Homo sapiens: one gene and its partners. The protein of the gene in region 6 purifies or fractionates together with the protein of the main gene of each other region. This does not show direct contact. Each region holds a gene or a part of one and is shown on either strand. Other genes may lie near its edges. The genes, in order: SH3BGRL, CKMT1B, RPAP1, CAMK2G, TOM1L2, IGBP1 and PFDN1.

What was found.
Region 1: the proteins of IGBP1 (region 6) and SH3BGRL fractionate together in Homo sapiens (co-fractionation; one large-scale study listed by BioGRID). This does not show direct contact.
Region 2: the proteins of IGBP1 (region 6) and CKMT1B fractionate together in Homo sapiens (co-fractionation; one large-scale study listed by BioGRID). This does not show direct contact.
Region 3: the proteins of IGBP1 (region 6) and RPAP1 fractionate together in Homo sapiens (co-fractionation; one large-scale study listed by BioGRID). This does not show direct contact.
Region 4: the proteins of IGBP1 (region 6) and CAMK2G purify together in Homo sapiens (affinity purification with mass spectrometry; one large-scale study listed by BioGRID and IntAct). This does not show direct contact.
Region 5: the proteins of IGBP1 (region 6) and TOM1L2 fractionate together in Homo sapiens (co-fractionation; one large-scale study listed by BioGRID). This does not show direct contact.
Region 7: the proteins of IGBP1 (region 6) and PFDN1 fractionate together in Homo sapiens (co-fractionation; one large-scale study listed by BioGRID). This does not show direct contact.

The regions. Positions count from the first base shown.
Region 1 is NC_000023.11:81,200,720-81,205,599, forward strand, and holds the start of SH3BGRL (adapter SH3BGRL), read left to right. Parts: upstream 1-1,382; 5' UTR 1,383-1,481; coding exon 1,482-1,526; intron 1,527-1,717; exon of another isoform or gene 1,718-1,857; intron 1,858-1,872; exon of another isoform or gene 1,873-2,001; intron 2,002-4,880. UniProt on the Homo sapiens protein: Appears to function as an adapter protein that bridges proteins together or proteins with mRNAs. May function as a ubiquitin ligase-substrate adapter.
Region 2 is NC_000015.10:43,596,329-43,599,906, forward strand, and holds the end of CKMT1B (creatine kinase U-type, mitochondrial precursor), read left to right. Parts: intron 1-79; coding exon 80-203; intron 204-1,047; exon of another isoform or gene 1,048-1,864; coding exon 1,865-1,999; intron 2,000-2,498; coding exon 2,499-2,624; intron 2,625-2,828; coding exon 2,829-2,945; 3' UTR 2,946-3,078; downstream 3,079-3,578. Other genes in the region: STRC (stereocilin precursor), read right to left, coding at 3,344-3,432. UniProt on the Homo sapiens protein: Reversibly catalyzes the transfer of phosphate between ATP and various phosphogens (e.g. creatine phosphate).
Region 3 is NC_000015.10:41,519,810-41,524,007, reverse strand, and holds part of RPAP1 (RNA polymerase II-associated protein 1), read left to right. Parts: intron 1-35; coding exon 36-237; intron 238-653; coding exon 654-763; intron 764-1,047; coding exon 1,048-1,243; intron 1,244-1,757; coding exon 1,758-1,910; intron 1,911-2,127; coding exon 2,128-2,270; intron 2,271-2,860; coding exon 2,861-3,617; intron 3,618-4,198. UniProt on the Homo sapiens protein: Forms an interface between the RNA polymerase II enzyme and chaperone/scaffolding protein, suggesting that it is required to connect RNA polymerase II to regulators of protein complex formation.
Region 4 is NC_000010.11:73,811,648-73,815,900, reverse strand, and holds the end of CAMK2G (calcium/calmodulin-dependent protein kinase type II subunit gamma), read left to right. Parts: exon of another isoform or gene 1-34; intron 35-653; coding exon 654-886; 3' UTR 887-898; intron 899-1,395; coding exon of another isoform or gene 1,396-1,457; 3' UTR 1,458-3,400; downstream 3,401-4,253.
Region 5 is NC_000017.11:17,863,926-17,868,123, reverse strand, and holds part of TOM1L2 (TOM1-like protein 2), read left to right. Parts: intron 1-1,199; coding exon 1,200-1,248; intron 1,249-1,704; coding exon 1,705-1,828; intron 1,829-4,198. UniProt on the Homo sapiens protein: Acts as a MYO6/Myosin VI adapter protein that targets myosin VI to endocytic structures. May also play a role in recruiting clathrin to endosomes. May regulate growth factor-induced mitogenic signaling.
Region 6 is NC_000023.11:70,135,998-70,140,195, forward strand, and holds part of IGBP1 (immunoglobulin-binding protein 1), read left to right. Parts: intron 1-4,198. UniProt on the Homo sapiens protein: Associated to surface IgM-receptor; may be involved in signal transduction.
Region 7 is NC_000005.10:140,278,805-140,283,002, reverse strand, and holds part of PFDN1 (prefoldin subunit 1), read left to right. Parts: intron 1-1,469; coding exon 1,470-1,554; intron 1,555-4,198. UniProt on the Homo sapiens protein: Binds specifically to cytosolic chaperonin (c-CPN) and transfers target proteins to it. Binds to nascent polypeptide chain and promotes folding in an environment in which there are many competing pathways for nonnative proteins.

The DNA of each region.
Region 1 (4,880 bases), about 11 Mb from region 6:
TGGAGGAGTGATAGCATTAGGTGAAATACCTAATGTAAACAACGAGTTGATGGGTGCAGCAAACCAACATGGCACATGTATACCTATGTAACAAACCTGCACGTTGTGCACATGTACCCTAGAATTTAAAGTATAATTAAAAAAAAATAAGAAGGTGGCCTCTGGAGTTCCTAACTCTGGAATGTACTAACCATATGATTTTAGGAAAACTATTTTTCTGAGTTTCAGTTTCTTCATCTGTAAAATTAATGTAATAGTACCCACCTCTTGAGGTTGTTTTAAGGACAACATGTAAAGAGATTAATTTGGAATTAGTATTTAAGACAGATTGGAGAAGGGAAAACCTGTGGGTAGGGAACAGTTAACAAAGCTATTGTAAGCACTGAGCCTAGGCAAAGACAGTAAACCACTAGACTGGAGACAGTGGAAAAACAGCAAAGGAAAAGAAGTAGGACAAGCGACTGACTCCTCTCCACTCTCATTCATCTTGCAAATTCCTTTTTTTCTGTTCATTTAACATAATCTGGGAACCTAAAACTACACTTTGAAGTATATGGTCTGTCTCTGGACATTATTAACTGTTTGCTCATTTCCTTAGAGCTACAAATAACCATCTGATCTCTCTCTTCACCATTTCAACATCTGCAATATGTTCTCCCAAATCCCTTACTTCAGTCAGTTAAAAAGCAAAACAAAACAAAAATCATCCATCTTTTTACACAATATTTTCAATCTTTTCTTTGTAATTTATTCCTTCATTCTTAAACTTGCCAATCAGGCCTCCTGCAAATTCCCACGGAAGCAGGGTTCCCTAATTTAACAAAACACAAAATTCAAAAAGAAAACCAATCCTGCCATTTCTGGGCTTAAGGAAACCTGAAACTTTCCTTCAAAACTCTGCAGCATTGCTCAGTACTTTAGTGCCTAATTCCTACAACGAGCTAAGATCAGAAAAATCACTACGTAATAGGAATCTTAAAATGCGCAAGGCTTTGAGAACATGGGTTTTCAACATACAGCTTGCTCTTTCAGGATCTGTCTTCTTATTTGCATATATTTCTGAGCAGGAAGTTATGCGCAGTACTTTTAGTCTCCGCGTGAAAAGGTCCTTCATGCTAATCTAATTCAATTCAGTTCTCCTTTTTCTTTCTTCTTCTCCTCGCCCTCTTCTCAGGGAAGGAATCGTCAAAAATCAATGTTTCAACAGATCTCGCGGTGCTATTCGAGATTCCCTATTAAAAAAAAATAGAATTGATGCAAACAGCCTGTTCCTTCCGGGGTTTTGGGCTGGAACTGCAGCGCTTAGAGAGCTCGGTGGAAGCTGCTAAAGGCGGAGGCGGGGCTCTGGCGAGTTCTCCTTCCACCTTCCCCCACCCTTCTCTGCCAACCGCTGTTTCAGCCCCTAGCTGGATTCCAGCCATTGCTGCAGCTGCTCCACAGCCCTTTTCAGGACCCAAACAACCGCAGCCGCTGTTCCCAGGATGGTGATCCGTGTATATATTGCATCTTCCTCTGGCTCTACAGCGGTAAGGAGAGTGGGGAGTCCACCTTTGTTGTTTTCCTACACACCAGTCCTCTGCTGCCCCAGAACCATTAAAATGCAGAAGTTCCTCTGGCAGCTTCTCCTTTGGAAGACTCATGCATCCCCGATCCCACCCTTCTTCTTCCCTTTTTTCCCTTTGTTGCATCGATTTCATTTTTTTTTTTTTCCACATAGAGTTCAGCTTTGTTTGCTTCGTGACGTTGGGGGGCACATTTCTGCTTTGAAGGAAAACGAAAGCTACCAAGTTTTGGGAGATGGGAGATGGTGCTATACGGTCTTTAGGGTTACGTGAAGTCAAGTAAAATCGCACACTGGTGAGTTTCAAGAGTGAGACATTTGATGAATACGCCCTAAGTACTGAGACAAGGAGGAGTGCACTTCTGTAAAGGATGGGGGTACACATGCTGTAACTGGTGGGGATTGAGTGGAGGCCTACCGAGGCATTGTAATTATTCTGGGTGAGTGAGACCCTGGTAATAGAGTTATTTTGAGAGTGTGTAGAAGAAAGTGGTTAACTTGAGCTTGAAGGCCTGTTAGAACTAGACAAATTGGGAGGGGAAGTTGGTAACAATGACGTAAATTTTTTTTTAACTTAATATGACACGAGATTCAGTTTTCCCCCCATATTGTCCCTTATTTTGACTGTTTCTATTCTTTCAAAATATTTTACTTTTAAATTTCTCTCACTGCTTCAAGTATATTGAGAACTGGATAGGGAGCTCAGTGGCTTCTTGTGTAGTGGCAGCCTGAGTTGCTGCTGCTTCAAATGATAGGACTTTCTCTTTCATGGATTCACTTACTCTTAATTTAGAATAACAAATTTTCAGCAGCTGTCGGGAGAATATGATAAACTGGGGTGCAAGATGAGTGTATATCCATGATAAATGAAAGTGCTTCTGCTTTTTACAACTCAAGAGAAAGGCAGACAGTGGCAAGAACAGATGTGTGGGTTCAGATTGTAGGGTATAGGAACCCCTTCCCTCTTCTTGAGCTTTAGAGCAGCAGCTAATCCAGGTTGTTGTGTGTTTTTATTTTTTGGCTTGTTTATTTACACCTGAGAGGATGTGGAATGGAAGTGGAGGTTATGTTAAATCACAAGAACCTTGATATTTGAACTTTGTCTTCTCTGGCCACCATGTGTGGATATGTTTATGCAATTTTGGAATATCAGAAAATTTAATCTTACATTTTTTGAATAAGTTTAGGTTAAAAAAAAGAACACCTTTTATATTTCCTTTGGACCTAATTTTATGAGCCTCTTGCTTTATTATTTTCCATACATGTTGTCTAATATTTCAAAGTAAAATTTGAGTTGCTCAGAGTCTCAACTCAATCCAATAATTGTAAAGTCCAACTTAATGCCTTTAGTTAAACCCCTAATGAGACTGAACAGATCAGGCAGTTAGTTTTGCTTTGGGAGTCATACAGTTTCAATACTGTTATTTATTCTTTGCTTTCTCCTTCCTCTACCCCTTCTTTAAAAGTAGATTCAACAAGAAACTGCTTTCAGAATTTCTATTCAAGTAAGAATAACTGCACCTCTCTTTGTTAAGTCTTAAGTTTCCAAGAGCCTTAGAAATGGCTGCTGTCTTCTATTATTTCCTTTATTGGACTCCTTTTTTTTTTTATTTAGATTTCAACTTTTATTTTAGATTCAGAGGGTACATGTGCAGATTTGATGCATGGGTATACTGTGCAAGGTTTGGGGTACCATTGAACCTCTCACCCTGGTAGTGGGCGTAGTACCCAATAGGTAATTTTACAACCTTTGCCTTCCTCCCTCCCTCCTCTGTAGTCTTCAGTGTCTATTCTTCCCATCTTTGTTGGACTTTATTGTTGAAGACCATGCAAATGGCAGATGTTTATGGTATTTGTATTTTATTTCAATTTTTTGTCATGAGTAGTTAGAAATTTATTAGAAATTTATCTACTGTAGTAATTATAGTTCAATGAACCTGTTATCAAAATTCTACTTCATAATGCCAAAATAAATCCTTGCTTTATTATACTATTACAACACTTTTAAATAATACCAAAACAGTGTAAAGTGAGTACTTCTTTGTAACATGAATGGAGTGGTGATTATTTACTTCAGAAAGGCACTTTTCAGTTTGCTGTACTAAAGTTTTCCTTTAAGATTGATGCCCTGTTTGTTTTAATACATAAGTTAGAAAGTTTTGAGCAAATATCCTGATGGAGTCCTACAATTGCACATAGTGAGATACTTCAATAAGTGACTAAGTTTAGTTGTCTGAAGAACAGTTAAAAGCTTCTTTGCTTTGGATTGGTGGTAGCTGACTGTTTCTTAATCTTCCTACTGGTTGTCATTAAAAAAAAAAACAACAGATGTTATACTGGTTATACTGGGCAGAGTGGGGGATCTGGATCTGTGATAATTGGCAAGACAATGTTAACTTATTATGGTGGCGGGCGCCTGCAGTCCCAGCCACTCGGGAGGCTGAGGCAGGAGAATGGCGTGAACCCAAGAGGCGGAGCTTGCGGTGAGCAGAGATCGCACCACTGCAATCCAGCCTGGGCAACAGAGCGAGACTTTCTCTCAAAAACAAAACAAAACAAAAAAAGTGGCCTAATAGTGAAGAGTAGCACTTGCTTCTTGAAAGTTTAGAAATGAAAACAAGTATGTTGGTCTTTGCAATGGATTTCATTTTTTATTTTTATTGATATATCATAATTGTGCATATTTATGGGGGACATATGATCTTTTGATACATGCACACAATGTGTGATGATCAAATTAGGGTAATTAGGATATCCGTTACCGCAAACATTTATCATTTATTTGTGGTGGGAACATTCCAAACATTCTAGCTGTTTTTTCTAGCTATACAGTAAATTATATTGGTAACTATAGCCACCCTATTGTGCAATTGAACAGTGGATCTTATTCCTTCTATCTAACTGTATTTGTGTACTCATTAACCAACCTCTCTTAATCCTTCTTTCCCCCTACCCTTCTCAGCCTCTGGTAACCACCATCCATTCTACCCAATATCTTCATGGGATCGACTTTTTTAGCTCCCACATGGGTGAGAACGTGTGGTATGTCTTTTGTCTTTCTGTGTTATGTCTTAGTTCACTTAAAATAATGTCCTCCAGGCTCATCCATGTTGTCACAAATAACAGAATATCATTTTTATGGCTGAATAATATTTTATTTTGTGTGTGTATATATATGTGTGTATATATAAGTGTGTGTATATATATGTGTGTGTGTGTGTGTGTATATATATATATATATATATATATATCACATTTCCTTTATTCATTCACCGTTGATGGACACTTAGCCACATATCATAGTTATTTTGAATAGTTC
Region 2 (3,578 bases), on a different chromosome or scaffold from region 6:
CCTCATAAATGCTTTTTTTCCCTCTATCTCTCCCAATTCTTGCCTTGCCTCTTGATCACTGTCCCTCTCCGGCCCTCAGGCACAACAATGAGAAGAGCTTCCTGATCTGGGTGAATGAGGAGGATCATACACGGGTGATCTCCATGGAGAAGGGTGGTAACATGAAGAGAGTGTTTGAAAGATTCTGCCGAGGCCTCAAAGAGGTTAGAGAAGACTATGTAGGGGAGCTAGGTGGGAGGACATAAGGAAAACCAAAGAGTAGCATAAATAGATTATGTAATTTACCAACCAACCCAGGACATGTCTTATAGTAAAAAGGACTATCTAGGACTCACTCCAGGACTAAAGGTGTAAACCAGCTGGGACCATACTGGGAAAACCAGGACATGTGGTCACACTAAGATTAGGAAAAGAAAGAGTGTCAGGAATCTTAGGAAGTGAACAAGGCTGTTGACAGAGAGTGCAAAGAAGGAATAAATGAGATGGCACGTCAGTGCCTGGGATGTGTGCAGTGGGATGGTGAGGTGTGCAGATAAGGAAAACATTCGAGCTTAGATTGATGTTGGCGGGGAGAGGTTGCTGTGTTCATGACTCTAATATAACCACCCAGTTCTGAGACAAGGTAGGCCTTGACTCTGGATTCTATCATTCTTGTTAAAGTATCGGGTCTAGGCTTTAAGTTGAGAGTTCGGAGAGAGACTGGGGAAGGTGGAGGATAGAATGGTTCAAGTTCTAGAATATGTGGCTCTAGATGAGAGGTTGAACTGAATCATCAATCCTACATGGATTGGGTCTCCGTATTCAAGTCTACATTAGAAATCCCCATAAACTCAATTCAATTCTTACTGTATGTTCTCAAACATACAGTTCTATTTTAGGTTTGCAAAGAAAAAGAGCTCCTCTTTTAGATTCTGAGAAGTTTCTACTATTTTTGGCAAGTAATAGATAACATATTCTGACTATGAGTGGGTAGGGAAGTACCTTTAAATTATATGCCTCAGTTTCCTCATCTGTAAAATTGGGATAATGAGATTTTCTACATTTTAGGTTGTTGTGGGGATTAAGTGAAATACAGGTAAAGTACTTGGTCCACAGTAAGTGCTTAATAAGTGTTAAAGTGTTAGCTGCAATATTATTCTGGATGGAAGAGTTTCCCCCCATGTTCAGCATGTAAGATATCCCCTATGGCATGGTTCCTTCTGAACTATAAAGAGGATCCCTTTACTCATGTTGGGTTGTGGTCTTTGTGACCATCATTCTGCTAGATCCCTTGTCTCTTGAACTCTAATAGTCATCTTCATGACTACATGGTTAAGTGAAGCCAAACGCCTTCCCCCCGCCCCCTATTCCTATGAATCTGGCTTTTCTGCTCTGTTTTCATCTTTCTCTGCATTCACACAGGTGCTCCGTTCACAGCTAACAGAATGTTATCTTACCTCTTCCTGGCAAAGCTTACACCTTCATCTTCTGTCTGAAGGGACCCTTCTAAGCTCTAGGCTCATTAGCAAAGCAAAGATAATCGATGCATGCAGACCTCATTGAATAATCAGTCATCTCTCAGTTCAGTTTACCACCTCTGTTCATTTCCCTAGATCATCCTTAATACACCACTCCTTCGAGTTTTCTTCTTCCACATAAGATATTTTTTCACAATCTCATTATTATGCACATCATAATTTTGCATCATGCATGCATGAAAACAATAACAAACCTTTTTCATTTAAAAAAAGACCAATGTCATTCATTCACAGCCAAGTTTCTGTTCTAGACATATTTCTAGTGTTCTTGTGGGTCTAGCTAAGGGAGGGTCCAGGGTTAATGAAATATCCCTGATTTTTCGTTAACAAAACCTTTGTGGACTCAGGTGGAGAGACTTATCCAAGAACGTGGCTGGGAGTTCATGTGGAATGAGCGTTTGGGATACATCTTGACCTGTCCATCTAACCTGGGCACTGGACTTCGGGCAGGAGTGCACATCAAACTGCCCCTGCTAAGCAAAGTAAAGGAGTTGTGGGGTTACAGAGGGGTGTGAGTAAGGAAGGGTGGGTTGTGGATGGGGAGGGAGTGGACCCTTTGGAAAGGAGCCAAACATGTTGTGGCTAAAGGGTCAGAGGACAGGCCAGGCACAGTGGCTCATGCCTCTAATCCCAACACTTGGGAGGCCAAGGCAGGCAGATTACTTGAGCCCAGGAGTTCAAGACCAGCCTGGGCAACCTGGTGAAACCCCATCTCTACTACAAATACAAAAGTTAGCTGGGTGTAGTGGAGGCTGAGGTGAGAGGATCACTTAAGCCTGGGAAGTCGAGGCTTCAGTGAGCTGTGATCACTCCAGCCTGGGTGACAGAGAGAGACCCTGTCTAAAAAAAATTAAAAAAGAAAAAAGAAAAAAGGAAAAAAAAAGTTCAGGAGACAGAGCTCTGAGCAGGTTCAGGGCTCTTTCAGGTAGGACTAGTCTCTGCCTCTATTGACCCTGCTCCCAATCCCTATCTCCTCTCTAGGATAGCCGCTTCCCAAAGATCCTGGAGAACCTAAGACTCCAAAAACGTGGTACTGGAGGAGTGGACACTGCTGCTACAGGCGGTGTCTTTGATATTTCTAATTTGGACCGACTAGGCAAATCAGAGGTGAGATCCTAAGGGATTAGGACAAGGAGAGGTATAGGTCTGCGAGGGCCGAAATATGGCAGTGAGTGAGCCTCCGGGATGTAAGATAATCTGAAATGAAATTCAGGTTGAGTGGGGAGGCAATTGGAAATGAGCAGGCAAGTCAGTCAGTGATAAAGAAAAACTCAGACTGTAGGAAGCAGATCAAAGATTAGTGTCCCTTAGGTGGAGCTGGTGCAACTGGTCATCGATGGAGTAAACTATTTGATTGATTGTGAACGGCGTCTGGAGAGAGGCCAGGATATCCGCATCCCCACACCTGTCATCCACACCAAGCATTAACTCCCCATCGCCAGCTGATGACTCAAGATTCCCAGGAGTTCTGCTCATTCTAATGATGGCCCATTCTACTTGCTCTGGACCTGCCCCCGCATCCCCTGCCTCCATCCTAGTAAAGACTCCTTGCTATGCTGCAGCTGTCTGTGTTACTTCTAATGGTGGGGTGAGGAGGGAGCAGCCTTCAGGAAATGAAAAGAGGCAGTGGGATTATTTATGATGGAAAGAGACTCCAGATATGGCAACCCAGGAACACTGATTCTCAGGTGGGTGGAAAGCATTAACATTTTACCCATATTCCTCATCAGCTTCTGAAAATAATCAGGATGCACTTCTGTTTGCACTTTATTCATTATGACTTAAGATTTCTCTCCCCACAATCTCCTTCTACTGTAGAGACAGGCTCATAGCAGGTGGCCAAGGAAGCTGATAGTCAATACCAGGGACCAGGAAGGTCGTGACCAGTCCTGGAGGCCCCAGGCTGTACTTCGACCTATAATAGACAGGGAATGGGAGTAATATCACAACTCAGCTCTCCAGGAGCATTGATACTTGGAAATTAGCGCTCTGCCTGTAGACTCCTTCACTCCAGGGATCTCCCTGGGTGCACTCTAAGAGCCAGACAGCACCAAATTAGGG
Region 3 (4,198 bases), on a different chromosome or scaffold from region 6:
GATCCTCACTGTGGCACCCTTTGGCACTTTTGTAGTGATTCTGCTGAGGCCAGCCTCTCGGCCACCCCTTCCTTAGTCACTTGGACACAGGTGTCTGGGCTCCAGCCTCTTGTTGAGCCGTGTCTAAGGCAGACCTTGAAGTTGCTGTCCAGACCTGAGATGTGGAGAGCCGTGGGCCCAGTGCCCGTTGCCTGCCTGTTGTTCCTGGGAGCCTACTACCAGGCCTGGAGCCAGCAAGTGAGTGCCTCCTGCCGGCTGTCCACCAGGCCCCCGCACCCTGCCTTCAGCTACATTCCACCCGTTGCTCCCTCTCTGTGTCCATCTCTCCACTCCTACTTCCCCATTTACTATCTTCCCTTTTAATTCCTACCCTTCCTCCTCTTTCTACCTCCATATCCCCGTGGAGCTTCCCAGGAGCCATGTTGGTGGGGACCAGAGAGCCCACGCAGCAGCTCAGCCTTCCTGTAGCCTGTGTGCTCCCTCTTTATGCCCCCTACACATCGGGGCCTTCTCTCCCTTCAGAAGGCTCAGCCTGCAGAAGCCTCCAAATGTGCTCTTTTGGGCTGTTGGGATGGTGGCATTGGCCTGGGTACACAGGGTCTAGGAGAATGAATGGCTGGGCCATCAGCTCAGTGAATTCCTTGGTCCACCAGCCAAGCTCATGCCCGGAGGATTGGCTCCAGGACATGCAGCGCCTGTCAGAGGAGCTGCTGCTGCCACTGCTGAGTCAGCCCACACTGGGCAGCCTGTGGGATTCCCTTAGGTATGTACTGTGTTTGGTAGCTGGGGGAAGCAGGGGAGGAGGCAATTTCTTTCCTTGTGGGATTCCTGGGTCCAGCTCCCAGGTCCATCCCAGGGTGCAGGCCCTCGGCCCGAGGGAAACCCGAGTCCCTAGCAGGCAGCAGTGGGGTGGGCTCTGAGGAGTGTGAGCAGCACTGACCTCCACAGCCAGGCCCCCCGTTAGTCTTAGGTACAGACCCAGAAGCTCTTTCCAGCTTGGCACACGCCAGGCCAGAGTCCCCCTCAGACTCTCCACTTCACCTACAGGCACTGCTCCCTTCTCTGCAACCCGCTGTCCTGTGTGCCAGCCCTTGAAGCTCCCCCCAGCCTCGTGTCACTGGGCTGCTCGGGAGGCTGCCCCCGTCTCAGTCTGGCTGGCTCAGCCTCACCCTTCCCATTCCTCACTGCCCTCCTCTCTCTTCTTAATACCCTGGCCCAGATCCACAAGGGGCTGTGTGGCCAGGTAAGTGTGGGGTGCCTGATTAGGGGCCAGGCAAGGGGCCAAGATGGCAGGAATCAGAAAGAAAGTGGGAGGGTGGGATGGGCGCGGTGGCTCACGCCTGTAATCCCAGCAGTTTGGGAGGCCGAGGTGGGCAGATCACCTGAGGTCGGGAGTTCGAGACCAGCCTGGCCAACATGGAGAAACCCCATCTCTACTAAAAATACAAAATTAGCCAGGCATGATGGCACATGCCTGTAATCCCAGCTACTCGGGAGGCTGAGGCAGGAGAATCACTTGAACCCGGGAGGCGGAGGCTGCGGTGAGCTGAGATCACACCATTGCACTGCAGCCTGGGCAACAAGAGCGAAACTCCATCTCAAAAAAAACCAAAAAGAAAGTGGGAGGGTGTCCCATGGGGAAGGGAGGCCTTCTGCTGGCACTCATTTCCCTGAGTCTGGAGAGGGGCAGCCACCTGGGGAGCCCTAGAAGGCATGAGAGTCAATTTCTAGATCTGAACAAAATTGCTTTTCCTCAGCTGGCTGCCATATTGGCTGCCCCGGGACTCCAGAATTACTTCCTCCAGTGTGTGGCTCCTGGGGCTGCCCCACACCTCACACCTTTCTCTGCATGGGCCCTGCGCCATGAGTACCACCTGCAGTACCTGGCACTCGCTCTGGCCCAGAAAGCGGTAGGTCCCCCTGTCTGACAGGTTCTCCTGTCATCCCATTATCTCCTTCCTGTTTCTGTGGAACCCAGCCTGCTTCTGCCAGGCCATGCAGCTCCCACTTTCCTCCAGACATGCCCTGGACCTCTGCCCTTCAGCCTCACTTTTATCCTCTTCCTCACTTCTCTCTGCCACGTCCCCTTCTCCTGTACTAGGTAGTTCCCTGCTTTTCTGTCTGCAGGCAGCGCTGCAGCCACTGCCAGCCACCCATGCTGCCCTCTATCATGGTATGGCCTTGGCCCTGCTGAGCCGGCTGCTGCCCGGAAGTGAGTACCTCACCCATGAGCTGCTGCTGAGCTGTGTATTCCGGCTGGAGTTCCTCCCGTAAGTGCTTGGTTGGTGGCATCAACTCAGCCCTTTTGGACGCTGCTGCAGTTGTTAACAGAGCAGCCCTGAATTTGGAGCCAGGAGACCTAAATTCTCTTTCTTCCACCGACGACACTTAACTCTTCCGAGCTTCCATTACCTCATTAGTGAAGTGAGGATCAGGCTAACCACACCCAAGAATGATTGTGAGACTTCAGTGTGACTGCATGGCTAAAAAAATGGTATCTAAATCAGTTACACACATGTAATAGCCATCCGCTACTGAGTGTTTACTCTGTGTTTGATACTCCCTTATGTATTTATCTACATTTTAAGTATTTTACTTGGACCATGAGATAGATACTATTATTATCCTTATTTTACTCTGAGGAAACTGAGGCCCAGAGAAGTTATGTAAACTCATGCCTAGGCAGCTGGCTGTAGTGTGCATCCTCTTAACTGCTACACAGCACTGCGCGGGAAGTAGTTAAGGGAGCAGAGAGGCACAGGTCTGGACCTAGGAGCCTCCAGGAAGTTCCAAAGAGCTGGCACAGCCTCCAAGTGCTGTGGTTCCAGCCCTCATTTTTGGCTTTTGGGTCCCATTACAGGGAAAGAACATCAGGGGGTCCAGAGGCAGCCGACTTCTCTGACCAGCTGTCGTTAGGAAGCAGCAGGGTCCCTCGGTGTGGGCAAGGGACTCTGCTGGCTCAGGCCTGCCAGGACCTCCCCAGCATCCGCAACTGCTACCTGACTCATTGCTCGCCAGCCCGAGCCAGTCTGCTGGCCTCCCAGGCTCTGCACCGAGGGGAGCTACAGCGAGTCCCAACCCTGCTACTGCCCATGCCTACGGAGCCGCTGCTGCCCACCGACTGGCCCTTCCTGCCACTGATTCGCCTCTACCACCGGGCTTCAGACACCCCCTCGGGACTCTCTCCCACAGACACCATGGGCACAGCCATGCGGGTCCTGCAGTGGGTGCTAGTTTTGGAGAGCTGGCGCCCCCAGGCTCTCTGGGCTGTGCCCCCTGCTGCCCGCCTGGCACGGCTCATGTGTGTGTTCCTGGTGGACAGTGAGCTGTTCCGGGAGTCCCCAGTACAGCATCTGGTGGCAGCCCTCCTCGCCCAGCTCTGTCAGCCTCAAGTCTTGCCAAACCTCAACCTGGACTGCCGACTCCCTGGCCTGACGTCTTTCCCTGACCTCTATGCCAACTTCCTGGATCATTTTGAGGCTGTCTCTTTTGGGGACCACCTCTTTGGGGCCCTGGTCCTCCTGCCCCTGCAGCGTCGGTTCAGTGTCACCTTGCGCCTTGCCCTCTTTGGGGAACACGTGGGAGCCTTGCGAGCTCTGAGCCTGCCTCTGACCCAGGTACTTTCTCAGCCCAGCAGGACCTGCAAGGGTACCCTGCACTGGGCCTCGGGGGCAGTCCTGAGCCTTGAGGAGCTTTGGAAGACCTCAGCTTCCTCATCTTACCTCTTGGGGGCTTTGAGGGGATTAAGAGAATCAATGAAAAGGGCTTAACATGGGCTGGGTGTGGTGGCTCACGCCTGTAATTCCATCACTCTGGGAAGCTGAGGTGGGTGGATCACTTAAGGTCAGGAGTTTGAGACCAGCCTGGGCAACATAGTGAAACCCCATTTCTACTAAAAATACAAAACTTAGCTGGGCGTGGTTGCGGGTGCCTGTAGTCCCAGCTACTCAGGAGGCTGAGGCAGGAGAATCGCTTGAACCCGGGAAGCGGAGGCTACAGTGAGCCGAGATCGCGCCACTGCACCCCAGCCCAGTGACAGAGCAAGACCCTGTCTCAAAAAAGAAAAAAGGAAAGGGTTTAACCTGGTGTCTGGCATATAGTGGGTATTCATTACTATTAATAAGGCATAGCTCCTTGCTTATCAGTGCTACAATCTAGATAAGAAGAGATTTACTGAAAACCTACATAGTTGTGAATT
Region 4 (4,253 bases), on a different chromosome or scaffold from region 6:
GAATCTCAATAAAAGCAACACAGTTTTCACAGCATATGCTGATAATGGCAATCCAACTTCTTTTGCCTTTTCCCCAGAGAATCCTGGGAATATCCTGAGCTTGGTGCTTTGATGATTCTATTTCAGCTTTGGTGCCTTAAAAAAAATTACAAATCAATTTTGAATGGTTTAAGTTCATGATTTTGTTCTGCAGCCCTAGCTAGGGGTGAGCCAAGCCTTATGAAATCTAAACTCAGCCTAACAGAATAGAAAATCTATAGGCTTTAGTTAAGAGTCACATGGTCCTGAGTTCAGGTGTGTGATTTGAGCAAATTATTCCTTGAGCCTATTTCCTCATCTTATAATGAAGAAAATATTATCCACCAAGAAATACAGCTCGGGCATGTAAAACCCCAGCACAATGCCTGATTAAAAGCGCAGCAGGTACTGTCACTGTTACCCATCTTTCTGTTCCTTTTGGATAAAGGAGACTAATGTAATGTGGCATCCTGGCCTCTGGAGGGCGTTCAGGGGTTCGGGGGTGGGGGGGGGCGGTACTTGGAGATTCTGGGAGTGGTTGCTTGGGAGATGGTAAGACTTGGAAGTGCAGGCTGGGAGGAAAATGCAGGTGCCCAGGCCTGATGTCCTCTTACCTACCCCACCCTGCCCTGCAGTCCTGTCCAAGAACAGCAAGCCTATCCATACCACCATCCTAAACCCACACGTCCACGTGATTGGGGAGGACGCAGCGTGCATCGCCTACATCCGCCTCACCCAGTACATCGACGGGCAGGGTCGGCCTCGCACCAGCCAGTCAGAAGAGACCCGGGTCTGGCACCGTCGGGATGGCAAGTGGCTCAATGTCCACTATCACTGCTCAGGGGCCCCTGCCGCACCGCTGCAGTGAGCTCAGCCACAGGTGCACCTGGTTGACGGGGGAGAGGGGCTGGAAGGGCCTGGGATAGGTGGGGTCAGAGGAAGAAGAGAAGGCTGGGAGGTGGTCCTGGGAGAGGAGGTGTGGGCCGTCCCAGAGGACTGGCAAAGCCTGGCAGAATGGTTGCAATAAGTTATGCTTGGAAATCAGACAGACTAGGGTCTGGCTCCGTGACTCCAAATTGGATGACCTCAGACAGGTTACTTCCCCTCCCTAAACTGTTTCCTTAGCTGTCAAAGAAAGGCAGAGAGTGGTGCCTACCTCATTTAATCATTGTGAGGATTAAGTAAGATACTATAAGTAAAGCACTTAGTTAGTGCTTAGCAAATGGGAGGCAGTTTTGTATTTAAGCATTAGCTTCACCCACTTTCCCCACCTTCTCAGGCCGACTTGGCCATGTGTTTAGCGTGCTAAAGTCGCTGGAACTCATCTGTGTGCTCATTGTCCTCTGTTCTGTTACCACATTCTGTCCTGTTTGACAGGGGCTTTAGGAGATTCCAGCCGGAGGTCCAACCTTCGCAGCCAGTGGCTCTGGAGGGCCTGAGTGACAGCGGCAGTCCTGTTTGTTTGAGGTTTAAAACAATTCAATTACAAAAGCGGCAGCAGCCAATGCACGCCCCTGCATGCAGCCCTCCCGCCCGCCCTTCGTGTCTGTCTCTGCTGTACCGAGGTGTTTTTTACATTTAAGAAAAAAAAAAAAGAAAAAAAGATTGTTTAAAAAAAAAAGGAATCCATACCATGATGCGTTTTAAAACCACCGACAGCCCTTGGGTTGGCAAGAAGGCAGGAGTATGTATGAGGTCCATCCTGGCATGAGCAGTGGCTCACCCACCGGCCTTGAAGAGGTGAGCTTGGCCTCTCTGGTCCCCATGGACTTAGGGGGACCAGGCAAGAACTCTGACAGAGCTTTGGGGGCCGTGATGTGATTGCAGCTCCTGAGGTGGCCTGCTTACCCCAGGTCTAGGAATGAACTTCTTTGGAACTTGCATAGGCGCCTAGAATGGGGCTGATGAGAACATCGTGACCATCAGACCTACTTGGGAGAGAACGCAGAGCTCCCAGCCTGCTGTGGAGGCAGCTGAGAAGTGGTGGCCTCAGGACTGAGAGCCCGGACGTTGCTGTACTGTCTTGTTTAGTGTAGAAGGGAAGAGAATTGGTGCTGCAGAAGTGTACCCGCCATGAAGCCGATGAGAAACCTCGTGTTAGTCTGACATGCACTCACTCATCCATTTCTATAGGATGCACAATGCATGTGGGCCCTAATATTGAGGCCTTATCCCTGCAGCTAGGAGGGGGAGGGGTTGTTGCTGCTTTGCTTCGTGTTTTCTTCTAACCTGGCAAGGAGAGAGCCAGGCCCTGGTCAGGGCTCCCGTGCCGCCTTTGGCGGTTCTGTTTCTGTGCTGATCTGGACCATCTTTGTCTTGCCTTTTCACGGTAGTGGTCCCCATGCTGACCCTCATCTGGGCCTGGGCCCTCTGCCAAGTGCCCCTGTGGGATGGGAGGAGTGAGGCAGTGGGAGAAGAGGTGGTGGTCGTTTCTATGCATTCAGGCTGCCTTTGGGGCTGCCTCCCTTCTTATTCTTCCTTGCTGCACGTCCATCTCTTTTCCTGTCTTTGAGATTGACCTGACTGCTCTGGCAAGAAGAAGAGGTGTCCTTACAGAGGCCTCTTTACTGACCAACTGAAGTATAGACTTACTGCTGGACAATCTGCATGGGCATCACCCCTCCCCGCATGTAACCCAAAAGAGGTGTCCAGAGCCAAGGCTTCTACCTTCATTGTCCCTCTCTGTGCTCAAGGAGTTCCATTCCAGGAGGAAGAGATCTATACCCTAAGCAGATAGCAAAGAAGATAATGGAGGAGCAATTGGTCATGGCCTTGGTTTCCCTCAAAACAACGCTGCAGATTTATCTGCACAAACATCTCCACTTTTGGGGGAAAGGTGGGTAGATTCCAGTTCCCTGGACTACCTTCAGGAGGCACGAGAGCTGGGAGAAGAGGCAAAGCTACAGGTTTACTTGGGAGCCAGCTGAGAAGAGAGCAGACTCACAGGTGCTGGTGCTTGGATTTAGCCAGGCTCCTCCGAGCACCTCATGCATGTCCCAGCCCCTGGGCCCTAGCCCTTTCCTGCCCTGCAGTCTGCAGTGCCAGCACGCAAATCCCTTCACCACAGGGTTTCGTTTTGCTGGCTTGAAGACAAATGGTCTTAGAATTCATTGAGACCCATAGCTTCATATGGCTGCTCCAGCCCCACTTCTTAGCATTCTTACTCCTCTTCTGGGGCTAATGTCAGCATCTATAGACAATAGACTATTAAAAAATCACCTTTTAAACAAGAAACGGAAGGCATTTGATGCAGAATTTTTGCATGACAACATAGAAATAATTTAAAAATAGTGTTTGTTCTGAATGTTGGTAGACCCTTCATAGCTTTGTTACAATGAAACCTTGAACTGAAAATATTTAATAAAATAACCTTTAAACAGTCCATTGTGTTACTGCTGTTGGAGGTTTACGGCCAGAGGCGTAGATTTTAGCAGCCTGGCTTACCAGGTTGGAGAGAGTACCTCCTCCTACTCCCTTTGGGTACTTTTGAGAATAAAACTTCCTCATGCCTGTAATCCCAGTACTTTGGGAGGCCGACGCGGGCGAATCACGAGGTCAGGAGTTCGAGACCAGCCTGGCTAATATGGTGAAACCCCGTCTCTACTAAAAAATACAAAAAATTTAGCTGGGCATAGTGGCGGGCGCCTGTAATCCCAGCTGCTCGGAAGGCTGAGGCAGGAGAATCGCTTGAACCTGGGAGGGGGAGGTTGCAGTGAGCCGAGGTCGCGCCACTGCACTCCAGCCCAGGCGACAGAGTGAGACTCCGTCTCAAAAAAAAAAAAAAAAAAAAAAAAAAAAAAAAAAAACTTCTCATAAACAGCCTCCAAACAGCGCTCGGTGCTGCGCAGGCGACGCGGGGCGGGGAGGGAGGGTGAGTGCCCTGGGAGCCGGCTGAGGGCCTCGCCCCGCCCCTGGTCCCGCCTCCGGTTAGGCCGCTCCGCCTCTTACTCCTCCCCTCCCCCGAGTGGGCCGGCCCGGCTCCCCCTCCGCGGGGCTGAGTGGATGAGCCCAGGCCTGAGCCCGCCCCTGCTCCGAAGTCGTGGTCCCCGACGCTCGGCCGGCAGTGCCATCGCGCGGAGAGGAGGGGGTGCGCTTCCGCGGGCGGGGCGCGGAGCCCGCCGTCTCGGAGGCCGCGGCTCGGCCCGGCACTGCGGAGGGCCGCTTGATTTCCCGGAACCCAGGTCGCGCGGCTGCTAGGGCCGGAGCCGGTGGATCCGAGCGGGTGCCACCAGCGG
Region 5 (4,198 bases), on a different chromosome or scaffold from region 6:
AATGGGCTTGGGTTTAACCTATTAAACCTATTTAAGCCCTGCTAGAAAGCATAACAGGAGCTAACTAATATGAGTATTTTCACCCAAGAGTCTCCCAGTCCAAGCATTACACATAATTCAGAGGCAAAGCCTGGGGCTGGTGGCTGGAAGTGCTATCCTGGTTAGAGTGTCTTTGATGATACTCATTGTTCATTGAAGATGAGTGTGGGAAAGGTACCCCAGGATTAAAATTGTTTCAGATGTATTAATATTCCTGTTCTCCTTGTAGACCACTGTTGAAAAAACACACAAGTCGTTTTTAAAACCACAGTGGACACTCACTGCCTTACCCAGATCATTCCTCCTGGGGATCTCTTTCTTGTCACCAGCTGCTGACCCCAGCAAGTTGGGAGACAAATCTGGAGCAGCATAACTCACTAAAGCTGGGTGTCTAAGGCTCCAGCTGGAAAAAGTCTCTTAGCTACCGCTGCCCATGGCATTTGGAGTTTTTAAATACGATACAGAACATAATCTATTCTGCCCCACCCCAACACACACCTCATAACTACTCTTCCGTTCCCCACCTGACAGGAGGATGACCTGGCCTTCGACAGTTGCTCAAAGCCAACTCCCCCTGCACTGCCTGACTGGGTGCAGAGGACACTCACTCCACCCTCCTAGCAGTCCTTCGATGACTGGCCCAGGCCTCTCTGTAGCAGCTACTGGCGAGCATTTCCCCAGGCCGTAGCCAGGGCCATGCGTCCGCCTTCCTCCTGCTGGTGCCCACCCTATGTGTGCCCCACCCCCTTTCCCCAGAGGCTGAGTTGGGAGCATGTTAGGAACACTAGCTAGTTGCTCCTGAACACAGCCCTATGAAATAGGGAGTCTGCAGCTCCAAGGTAAGGTGGTTAAGCCACCCTCCCTCCAGGGCCCAGGTGTGTGAGGAGAGGCTGGGGACACTCACAATGACCTCCATGATGGGCCAGCCACCACCCCTTTCTGATGCCCACTCTGGGTGCTGGGTGAGAAGCTGATCCTCTCAGGGGGAGCCCCACACAGAGGAAGCCGTGGCAGAGTTGATATATGGTTTCACTCCCTAGCCCCCAGGTGGGACTGGCTGGTCTTGGTCCCAGGGATTCTTCATAGGACTAGTGAGCACCCCACAGGGCCATATCACAGGCATCCTCTCTCCTTACTTCTGCTTTCCCTTCCCCTGTTAGGTTCGAACGATACAGGTCTGGCCGATCCGTTCAAAATGCCAGTAATGGAGTAAGTATTCCTTCAGAATCCTGTCATCTCCTGAGGCCAGACCTACCCCTCCACGTTTTGGAGGCTGGAGAGACCTCCAGTTTTTCTAACTGGTTTTGAAATATTTGGGAAATTGAAGAGGCAAGCTCTGGTTGATGGGATACTAGGGCAGAGCTAGCAGGCACCCCTGATGGGAAGGTGGCAAGCAAGCCCTAAGTTTGCATCTCCCAGGACAGTCACTGTTGACTCAGCAACCCCTCCTTCTAGTGGGGACGGGGAGGAGGCAGTGAGCAGGGCTCACTGACATCCAGGCCCACCATGGACCTGGAAGGCAGGTGGGGGAAGTGGCCTTGCTTCTGTACTAGAGCAGCGCTGATACTTTTCTTCTTGGAACCCTGCATAGTTGCCTTGCCAGCTTCTACCTCAGAGCCTGACTCCAGGGTTCTGGGGCTTATGGCCAATCTCATGTTCTGACAGGTACTGAATGAAGTAACCGAAGACAACTTAATAGACCTGGGGCCAGGGTCTCCAGCCGTGGTGAGCCCAATGGTGGGGAACACAGCGCCCCCATCTTCCCTCTCCTCCCAGCTTGCAGGCTTAGGTGAGTGTCTCACAGGGACAAAAGGGCCTACCTACTTCCTACCACTGGCCTCCCTTGCAGGCCACCTCTCTTTCTTTCTTGGAAGACCCAAAGAGAGTCTTTTGGGAAATACATGTGAAAGTGTATTCCTGAGTCCTAGCCAGTTGTACCACCTTACTTTCAATTCATACCTTTTTTCCCCCTAAATTTGAAGTTTAAAATCTATGTTGGAAAGCAGGGATGGGGGAAATTCCAATGAATTAAAGAAAGGTCACGGCCGTGCGCAGTGGCTCACGCCCGTAATCCCAGCACTATGGGAGGCCGAGGTGGGTGGATCACCTGAGGTCAGGAGTTTGAGACCAGCCTGACCAACATGGCGAAACCCAGTCTCTACTAAAAATACAAAAATTAGCTGCGCATGGTGGGCACCTGCAATCCCAACTACTCGGGAGGCTGCGGCAGGAGAATCACTTGAGCCTGGGAGGTGGAGGTTGCAGTGAGCCGATATCGCATCATTGCACTCCAGCCTGGGCGACAGAGCAAGACACTGTCTCAAAAAAAAAAAAAAAAAAAAGAAAGGTCACCTGCCATGTTTTATATGGAACATTCCCTATGATTGAAGTAATTTCCTTTTCAATATTAACTAGGTCAAGGCCGGGCGCGTAATCCCAGCATTTTGGGAGGCTGAGGTGGGTGGATCACTTGAGGTCAGGAGTTTGAGACCAGCCTGGCCAAAATGGTGAAACCCCGTCTGTACTAAAAATACAAAAAAATTAGCCAGACTTGGTGGCGGGCACCTGTAGTCCCAGCTACTCAGGAGGCTGAAGCAGGAGAATTGCTTGAACCCGGGAAGCAGAGGTTGCAGTGAGCCGAGATCGCGCCATTGCACTCCAGCCTGGGGGACGACTCCATCTCAAAAAAATAAATAAATATTAACTAGGTCAAGGAGGGCAGATAGGTTTCAGCTCTTTGGCTTCTTGGAACACAGGTTTGAGGAGGATGCTGAAGCCACATCAGGGCTTAGAAAAGTCTGTGATTGATTGATTGTCAATATCTACAGAGGGCTTGGAAACAGGAGGTAGCAGCACTGAAATATTTGCTCTCCTTGAACTTTACCATCAGCCTAAAGCAGTCCATTGTCTGGAACTTAAAAGAAACTCACCACTTTCCACAGTTCATTTAGTTTGTACATTCAAAGTGTGTATATGACTCTAGCACATTGGTTATACTGGATGATACCAATTTATAACAAATGAAATTATAACATTGAAATAATAAGCATGGCCCTCAAAATTCTTTCCTCTGTCTTGCTTTTCTGTTTTCCTTTTTAAAAAATATTTCTCGTCTACTTTCCTTTCATTTGACTTGAGTTAAACTTCTAGTGGCTATCAGTTGCTGTAATTGTAGCTTCTCAATATTTCGTATATTTGTAGCCACTATTTCTGTATCAGAACAGATGTCTCTGCCTTCAGTCAGTCCAGCATATATGACTGCCAGATTTAATACTTAAAATTCAAAGTGTAACACCGGTAATCCCAAGACTTTGGGAGGCTGCGGCAGGTGGATCACCTGAAGTCAGGAGTTCAAGACCAGCCTAACCAACATGGCAAAACCCCATCTCTACTAAAAATACAAAAATCAGCTGGGCATGGTGGTGTGTGCCTGTAATCCCAACTACTAGGGGGGTTGAGGCAGGAGGATCGCTTGAACCCGGGAGGCGGAGGTTGCAGTGAGCCGAGATTGTGCCACTGCACTGCAGCCTGAGCAACAGAGCAAGATGCCATCTCAAAAAAGAAAAAAAAAAAAAAGCCGGGTGCGGTGGCTAACGCCTGTAATCCCAGCACTTTGGGAGGCCGAGGCGGGTGGATCACAAGGTCAGGAGATCGAGACCATCCTGGCTAGCACGGTGAAACCCTGTCTCTACTAAAAATACAAAAAATTAGCCAGGCGTGGTGGTGGGCGGCTGTAGTCCCAGCTACTTGGGAGACTGAGGCAGGAGAATGGCGTGAACCCGGGAGGCGGAGCTTGCAGTGAGCCGACATCGCTCTACTACACTCCAGCCTGGGTGACAGAGCGAGACTCTGTCTCAAAAAAAAAAAAAAAATCAAATTGGATTCTGCTACCTCTCTTCTTAAAAAAGGTATAGTAGGCCAGGCATAGTGGCTCACGCCTGTAATCCCAGCACTCTGGGAAGCCAAGGCAGGCGGATTGCTTGAGTCCAGGAGTTCAAGACCAGCCTGGGCAACATAGCAAAACCTCATCTCTACTAAAAATACAAAAAAATTAGCTGCGAGTGGTGGCACACACCTGTAGTCCCAGGTACTCAGGAGGCTGCAGTAGGAGAATCTCCTGAGCCCAGGAGGTTGAGGCTGCAGTGAGCTGAGATCATGC
Region 6 (4,198 bases):
AGGATTAAAAGAGAAATATATATAAAGCAGTTAGCCCAATGTTTGACACAGTAAACACTCAAAGTCAACTATTATTATTTGTGGCTAAGAGTATGGGTCATAGAGTCAGAGACCTGGGTTTGAGATCCAGCTTTACTTATAATCTGTTGGACTTTGGGGAAGTTATTTAACCTAACTGAGCCTCAGCTTTCCTCATATGTGAAATCTAAGTAATAATGGTACAGATGGTCCCCGATTTGCGATGGCTTGTCTTAGAATTTTTTAACTTTATATTGGTGCAGAAGCAATACACAGTCAGGGGAACATCAATAAATTACATGAGTTATTCAACACTTTATTATAAAATAGGCCTTGTGTTAGATGATTTTGCCCAACTGTAGGCTAATATAAGTGTTCTGAGCATGTTGAAGGTAAACTAGGCTAAGCTATGATGTTCAATAAGGTGTATTAAATGCGTTTTCAACTTACCATATTTTCCATTTATGATGGATTTATTGAGATGCAGCCCTATTGTAAGTTGAGATGCATGTGTACCTATCTCAGGGTTAATAAGCACAAATGGGAAAAATCACATAAAACAGCACAATATCTGGCATGTGGTGAGTATTCTGTAAATGTCAGCTGCTATTAGGTAGGACACGCCAAAGAGCTTACTCTGGTTGGTGACTGAGATCCACTGAAGAGTTCTGTTTCTTTTTTCTTTATTATTATTATTATTATTATTATTATTATACAGAGTTTCACCCTTGTCACCCAGGCTGGAGTGCAATGGTGTGATCTTGGCTCGCTGCAACCTCCACCTCCTGGGTTCAAGCAATTCTGCCTCAGCCTCTCAAGTAGCTGGGATTACAGGCACCTGCCACCACGCCCGGCTAGTTTTTGTATTTTTAGTAGAGATGGGGTTTTGCCGTGCTGGCCAGGCTGGTCTCGAACTCCTGATCTCAGGTGATCTACCCACCTCGGGCTCCCAAAGTGCTGGGATTACAGGTGTGAGCCGCTGTGCCCTGGCTGTTTCTTTTCAAATAGTAGCATGATCACATTTGCATTTTAGCTAGTACACTGTACCAGCAGTTAGGAAACAGTGAGGGAAAAGATTAGACCCAGTTAAGTCACAAAGGTGACTAGGGTTTACTATTGCAATGGTAGAGGGATGGGGGAGTACATTTAGGAGGGTTGAATCTACAGGAAACCTGGTGATCAATTGGTTGTGGGAGGTGAGATAGAAGGAAGCAGCAAGGAAAGATGTCCATGTTTCTGATTTAGGTGGATGGCTGTGAAATTTATTGAGAAGGGGAAAGAGGAAGAAGAGAAGATCGGGGAAGGGGAGAGTATGAATTTAGTATAGAAACATGTTGAGGTTAAGGTGCCTAGGAGATAAGTAGAGGTGTCTGTTAGTCTGAAGCTCAGAGGAGAGGCTTGGTCTAGAGAGCTGAAGATGATTCATTTATTCAGAAATATTTATTAATTGCTTCCTGTGGGGCTGTTCTAGGTGTTAGAGAACCAGATGAAGTCAGTGCTGCTATGGAGCTTTTATTCTGGTGGTAGAGACAAACAGTAAGCTAGTAAATAATGTAATTTCCGCTGGTAAGGACCATGAGGAATAATAAAGTTAGGGGATAGTGAGTGACTGAGGATATGGGCTAGACTGATACGAAATGGAATTTAACATCCTGTCCTTTGTAAGAAGTTGAGGGCGGCCTGTCAGCAGATAATAGGTAGTTTAAACAGTGAGTTTGGTATCCAAATAATTATACAAAAAAAAAAAAAAAAAAAAACTGCAAGAGAAAGATGAGGGAGTGGTCACATCTGGTTGGAGGGATGAAGAAAAGGTTTCAGAACATAATGGCATTTGACACCAGGCGCGGTGGCTTATGCCTGTAATCCCAACACTTCGGGAGGCTGAGGCAGGTGGATCCCTTGAGGTCAGGAGTTCAAGACCAGCCTGGTCAACATGGCAAAACGCCATCTCTGCAAAAAAAAAAAAAAAAATTATCCGGGGGTGGTGATGCACTCCTGTAATCCCAGGTACTCGGGAGGCTGAGGCAGCAGAATCGCCTGAGCCCGGGAGTCGGAGGCTGCAGTGAGCCGAGACTGCGCCATTGCACTCCAGCCTCAGTAATGGAATGAGACTGTGTCTCAAAAAAAAAGAACATAAATGGTATTTGAGATGAGTCTTAAAGGATGGTTAAAAATAGAAATTAGGCTGAGTGCGGTGGCTCATGCCTGTAATCCCAACTCTTTGGGAGGCCAAGGCGGGAGGATTACTTGAGCCCAGGAGTTCAAGACCAGCCTAGGCAACAAAGTAAGACTCTGTCTGTACCAAAAAATAAAAATAAAAAACTAGCCAGGTATGGTGGCACAGGCCTGTAGTCCCAGCTACTCCAGAGGCTGAGCTGAGCTGGGAGGATCACTTGTTGAGGCTGCAGTGAGCTGTGATCGCACCATTGTATTCCAGCCTAGGTGACAGAGCGAGACCCTGTCTCAAAAAAAAAAAAAAAAAAAAGATTTTTCTGAATGTAAAAGTCATAGTGCTCATTGTAGAAAGTTTGCAAAACAGAAGAATATTTTTTAAATAAAAAATAAGCCTCAATCCTAGCACTCATAGATGATCATTGTTAACTTTCTGATGTGTTTCCTTTCAGTTACATAGTTATTTAAGCTAATAAATTTGGAATGCTGTAACTATAGCTTTTTATCCTGTTTTTTTAACCTAACATTATACCATGAGCATTTCCTCGTGTCTTTTGAAACCATGATATTGAATGTTCCATGCTCTAGTTGTACCATAATTATTTAATCTGTTATTGTCAAATATTTAGACACTGGTTTTTTGCTATTCTGAGTAATGCCATAAACAAACATCTTTAAATGTATCTGTCACTGTTTCCTTAGGGTAGATTTCTAGAGCCGGTGACTGGGTCAAAGTGTTTGAATATTTTGAGGCTCTTGATATGTGGTAAAAGTGTTGCTTTCTACAATAACAGAGTTTCAGAATATGTTCCACTGCATTTGTCTTGGGTGTTAATACTTAGAAAATCCAATTGGGTGGCCGGGTGCGGTGGCTCACTTTGGGAGCCTGAGGCAGGTGGATCACCTGAGGTCAGGAGTTCGAGACCAGCCTGGCCAACATGGCGAAACCCCATCTCTACTAAAAATACAAAAATTAGCCAGGCATGGTGGCGGGTGCCTGTAATCTCAGGTACTTGGGAGGCTGAGGCAGGAGAATTGCTGGAACCCAGGAGGTGGAGGTTGCAGTGAGCCGAGATCGCACCATTGCACTCCAGCCTGGGCTGGCAACAGCGAGACTCCGTCTCAAAAAAAAAAAAAAAAAGAAAAGAAAAGAAAAAAGAAAATCCAATTGGGCAAACAGAAAGTATCTATTGTTTTGATTTGCATTTCTTTGGCCTGCCGCTTTGAACGTTTTTCTTAAATGCCTGACAGATATCAACACTTAACTTTATACTAATGTCTCCCACATTCGTATTACTAGCCCAGACCCCTCCTGACCTTCAGACCCATACTTGCAACACCCTTCCTTCATGGGTGTTTCACAGACATGTCATACCTTGAACCCTTGGCTTTTTAACCCCCAAATGTGCCTCCTCACCCATCTCAGTAAGTGTACCACCATTGACTTAGGTTTTTAAACCAGAAACCTAGGATTTAGCTTCAATTCCTCACTTTTTCTGAATTTTCACATCCAGTCCATCAGCAAAGGCCTTTCCATTCCAGCTACAAAAGGTATCTTCTATCCTTCTATTTCTCTCCATCTCCACTATCATACCTCAGTCTAGGCTACCAGCATTTCTCAGCTGAGATAGACAAATCAGCTCCAAGGCCTTGTGTGATCTGCTGCCTGCCTCTTTTCAGTCTCACCATGTATCATTCTCCCCTCGTTCACTAGACTTCAGCCACAATGACCGTCTTTCAGTTCTTTGAATAGACCCAGCTCTGTCCCTCTATAGAATGTCTGTGTGTGCAGTTCTCTTTGCATGGAATGCTCGTCATATGGCTAATTCTTCATCCTCTAGGTCTCAGCTTAAATGTCACTCCTCAGGCCTTTCCAGATCAGTCTCTTTAAGTAGTTAACAACTATTATTCTCTCTTTGCTTCATGTTTGTTTCCTTCTTGGCACTTGTGTGCAGTCATTTCATGTGTCTTTCTGAGTTTTGTCTCTCTCCCCTACTACAGTATATAC
Region 7 (4,198 bases), on a different chromosome or scaffold from region 6:
GGGGTTGGCAGAGGAAACTGCATGTTGCTACCTTGATGTGTTTTCTCGTTTGACTTTTTGTTAAGAGATGATGTTTAGTTCTTTGTTGCTGAACTCTGTTAGTGCAAAGAGAAGAAAAATCTTGCTTAATTAATTGCAATATTAAATTGAAATATATTTTAGCTTCCTTAGACAGTCCTGAAAGAGATTTGCATAACTGGGGTCTTCCCTTGGTTCCAGTGGAGGGGAAATATTTCAGTTCACTTACTTGGGGCTATAAAAGTTTGTTCTTCCTTTCCCTGAAGCAAGAATTGTGAACATAAAGTCATAAAACAGTTTCAGTGTTAATTTTTAAAACTTCTCCATATTTCCACCCTCATCAGTGGTAAATAATGTGCCTGATGTAAAATGGAAAAAGTTGAAAATTTCCACTTGTACATTTTGAGCTTTTCAGAGGTACTATATACACTCTGGAAATAATAATAAAAGATACTAAGGCTTATACAGTGCTTTTTGTTTGAGGAACTCATATAAACACTAATGCATTGATCCTAACACAGTGCTTGATTGTGACTTTAAAAGGTCATGAGTTACTGCTGTTACAAAAAAAAAAAAAAAATGGAGGGGCGCTCCACTTTACAAATATAGTTTAAAAAATATCTAGATAAAAATTGAAACAGATAACTGAAAAAACAAAACTTATAGGGTATTTGTTTGTATGTTGACTTTTCTCTTAGCGTATGATATATTTTTATTCCTTTATTATTTTTTCTTTTACATATGAATCTACTTGAAGCCTGATTTTCTTTTCTTTTTTTTTTTTTTTTTAATGTTTTTAAGACAGGATCTTGCTCTGTTACCCAAGCTGGAGTGCAGTAGCACAATCATGGCTCACTACAGCTTTGATATCTCAGTCTCAATTGATCCTCCCACCTCAGCCTCCCTAGTAGCTGGGACTACAGGCGTGTGCCACTGTGCCTGACTAATATTTTAAATTTATTTTTTGTAGAGATGGGTCTCATCATGTTGCCTGGGCTAGTCTTGAACTCCCAGGCTCAAGCAGTCCTCCTGCCTCGGCCTCTCAGAGTGCTGGGATTACAGGTGTGAGCCACTGTGCCCAACTCCCGCAACCCCCCCGCTTTTTTTTTTAATGAGACAGGGTCTTGCTATGTTGCCCAGACTAGACTCAGACACCTGGGCTCAAACAATCCTCCCACCTCAGCCTCCTGAGTATCTGGGACTGTAGGCCCACACCACTGTTCCCTGCCTGATTCCTATATTAAATAAGAAAGCAGAATCTACTTTTAAGCCTTTATTCCTTCTCAGCCAAGAAGGTTTAAACTTCTGGTGGTTTCCTGAGCTTGACGTATTATGTTAATATGCATTTGTCCTTTTAATTTGCTCAGTTTAATATTTGTAGTATGTAGCTATTGATTTCGATGAATTCAATAGTCATGTGGCTTAATTTTCAACTTTCTTGTGTTTCATAGGTTTATTCTTCAGTCCAAGGAAGCAATTCACAGTCAGCTGTTAGAGAAGCAGAAAATAGCAGAAGAAAAAATTAAAGAACTAGAAGTAAGTTTTTATTGGCAATAGGAGTTAACTTTTGGGAGAAAGTAGTAATCTTATTGTGTCATATTAAATGAAAATGTATGCCTGCCTGCCAAAGTAATGTCATATTATTTTTATTTTCTATAATTACGTTGGAGCCGTGAAGCTGTCATATTCATATTCATAGCGCATATAAGACCAAAACAAAAAAAAAAGAATAGTCTCTTCTTTGGAACTGCAGAGAATTTTGATGAGATGGTTTTAACCTGAATGTATTTTGTTCATTGCCCTTGAATGTGTTTATTCTTTAAAAAAAACAAAACCATAAACAAAATGTAATGTATATTTAAACAACACTTGTGTAGTGGATTGTGGTGGATGGGCAGGAGAGTGGGTAATAATGATAAATTTTAGAGGATCTTGGTATAGGGTCTTTTTTACACATTGTAATTTCTTTAACCTAAATTAGGTTCTATATAAGGACAAAGTAGCAAGCTATAACCAATTAACTATCTGAAGGATGGTGCTCCAATGAGAACAATTTTTTCTTTTTAGCTAGGGAAAAAGATGATAGGTAACAGTAAGCAAATCTTTGGAAATATTACTTTATTATTTTTATTATTATAATTTATTTATACATTAAGACCTTTAGTGAGATATTCTTCTTGGGCTTTGGTGAAAGGCCCATCCTGTGTATAGTAAAAGTTAGACTGGACAAAAAGCTGGTTATTTCTTAGGGACCAAGATTTCCCAACATGTGGGTGGATACATTGACTTCATAGGTCATTTCATCTAATTTCTGTAAGTACTATTTGAGGCAGAGGATCAGAATCTAACTCAGCCCTCTGCTGAATTTGGGAGCTACAACTTGTAGCCTCCTGAGGATTTCTTAGGGGCACTGAATTGGCCTGGCCTGGGAGTATGCAGTATCTTAGGTTACTTAGGCTTATTTTTAACTACTGATAGTTGAAACAAACTTGATAATAGATTTGCAGCTTAGAAAAGTGTATTGTAAAAACAAGACAAAAAAGCAAAAAAACCAAGTAAAGAAAAAACAGCCTGTGATAACCAGATTGTTGTTGTGTCCTATTTTAACATTTTAATCAGCTCAACTGTTCTAAGAGGTTCAGTTTGATATCTGTGTTTTCACTCATAAGAAACAAAAGTATCTTTAAAAACCCAAACAGAATCATTTCATGTAGATAAAACAAAATGCATTTTTGCAACTGTAGGTAAATATATTTAAAATTATCCTAATGAATAATAAGTAGCAAGGTAATATGTATATAATTCTCTTTATGAAAACAAAAAACAAACATTTGTGTATGAATATTGAAGATGATATGTAAGGATATATATTAAATTGTTAATACTGTTTACCCTAAAGAAATTAGATGGGACGTAGGGATAAATGATTTTTTCTTTTTCTTTCTTTCTTTTCTTTTCTTTTCTTTTTTTGTTTTTTTTTTTTTTTTTTGAGACGGAGTTTCGCTCTTGTTGCCCAGGCTGAAGTGCAATGGTGTGATCTCGGCTCACTGCTACCTCCGCCTCCTGGCTTCAAGCGATTCTCCTGTCTCAGCTTCCCAAGTAGCTGGGATTACAGGCATGCGCCACCACGCCCTGCTAATTTTGTGTTTTTAGTAGAGATGGGATTTCTCCTTGTTGGTCAGGCTGGTCTCGAACTCCCGACCTCAGATGATCTGCCTGCCTCGGCCTCCCAAGTGCTGGGAATCATAGGCCACTGCGCCTGGCCTTGATTTTTTTCTTACAATCTCTGTAATAATAAATTATAACAAGTATACATTAACTTTTTTTGTTGTTAACTTTCATGATTAAAAAATTAGCAGAGTGGGCACAGTGGCAAATGCTTGTAGTCCCAGCTACGGGAGGCTGAAGCGGGAGGATTGCCTGAGGCATTCCAGCCTGCGCAACATAACAAGACCTTGTCTCTTTAGGGAAAAAAAAAAACACAAAAACCCCAATTATCAAGGTGAAATTGCCACAGGTGATGATTTTATCAATACCGTACTGCTGAGTTCTGGTGAATATTAAGAAATTTACTTTCTGCAAGTTTCCTTTTGTTGAGTGTCTCAAATACTGGTAGAATGTTTTATCTTTTAGGAAGTTCTTTTTTCTTTTTTAATTTTTCATTTTACATGTTACTTACATTATAAAAGCAATAGAAGTACACCATAAATAAAATATAAAACAAATGATTAAACAATGAAAATATTACTTTGTTTTTCCACCCTCGGTACATCCAAATGTCACCTCTACGGTTTCTGTATCATTCCAAACTTCTATATTTATATCAAGACATTCATACATGCATATATATACACAACCTTTTTTTAAAATAGGAATTATGCTATATATACTGTTTTCCATCATTTGACAGTTTATCTTGCTACTTTAGTAATATAACTCCAGTTTATATACAATTTCTTTTTTTGATTCCCATCATCATGGGCTCCTTACCATGAGCCTTATTTCAGCATTTAATATGTTCTCCAGTACTTCCCTAATCTGTGCTTTTAACAGTATCACCCAGTGTATACTCCCCTCTCTTCTCTGAAACAATCCTATACTTTTCCACTGCTACAACTTTATGGTTTTATTACTTCAGCACACCCCCACATGTGCACTTATGCACATATACACTGTTAAT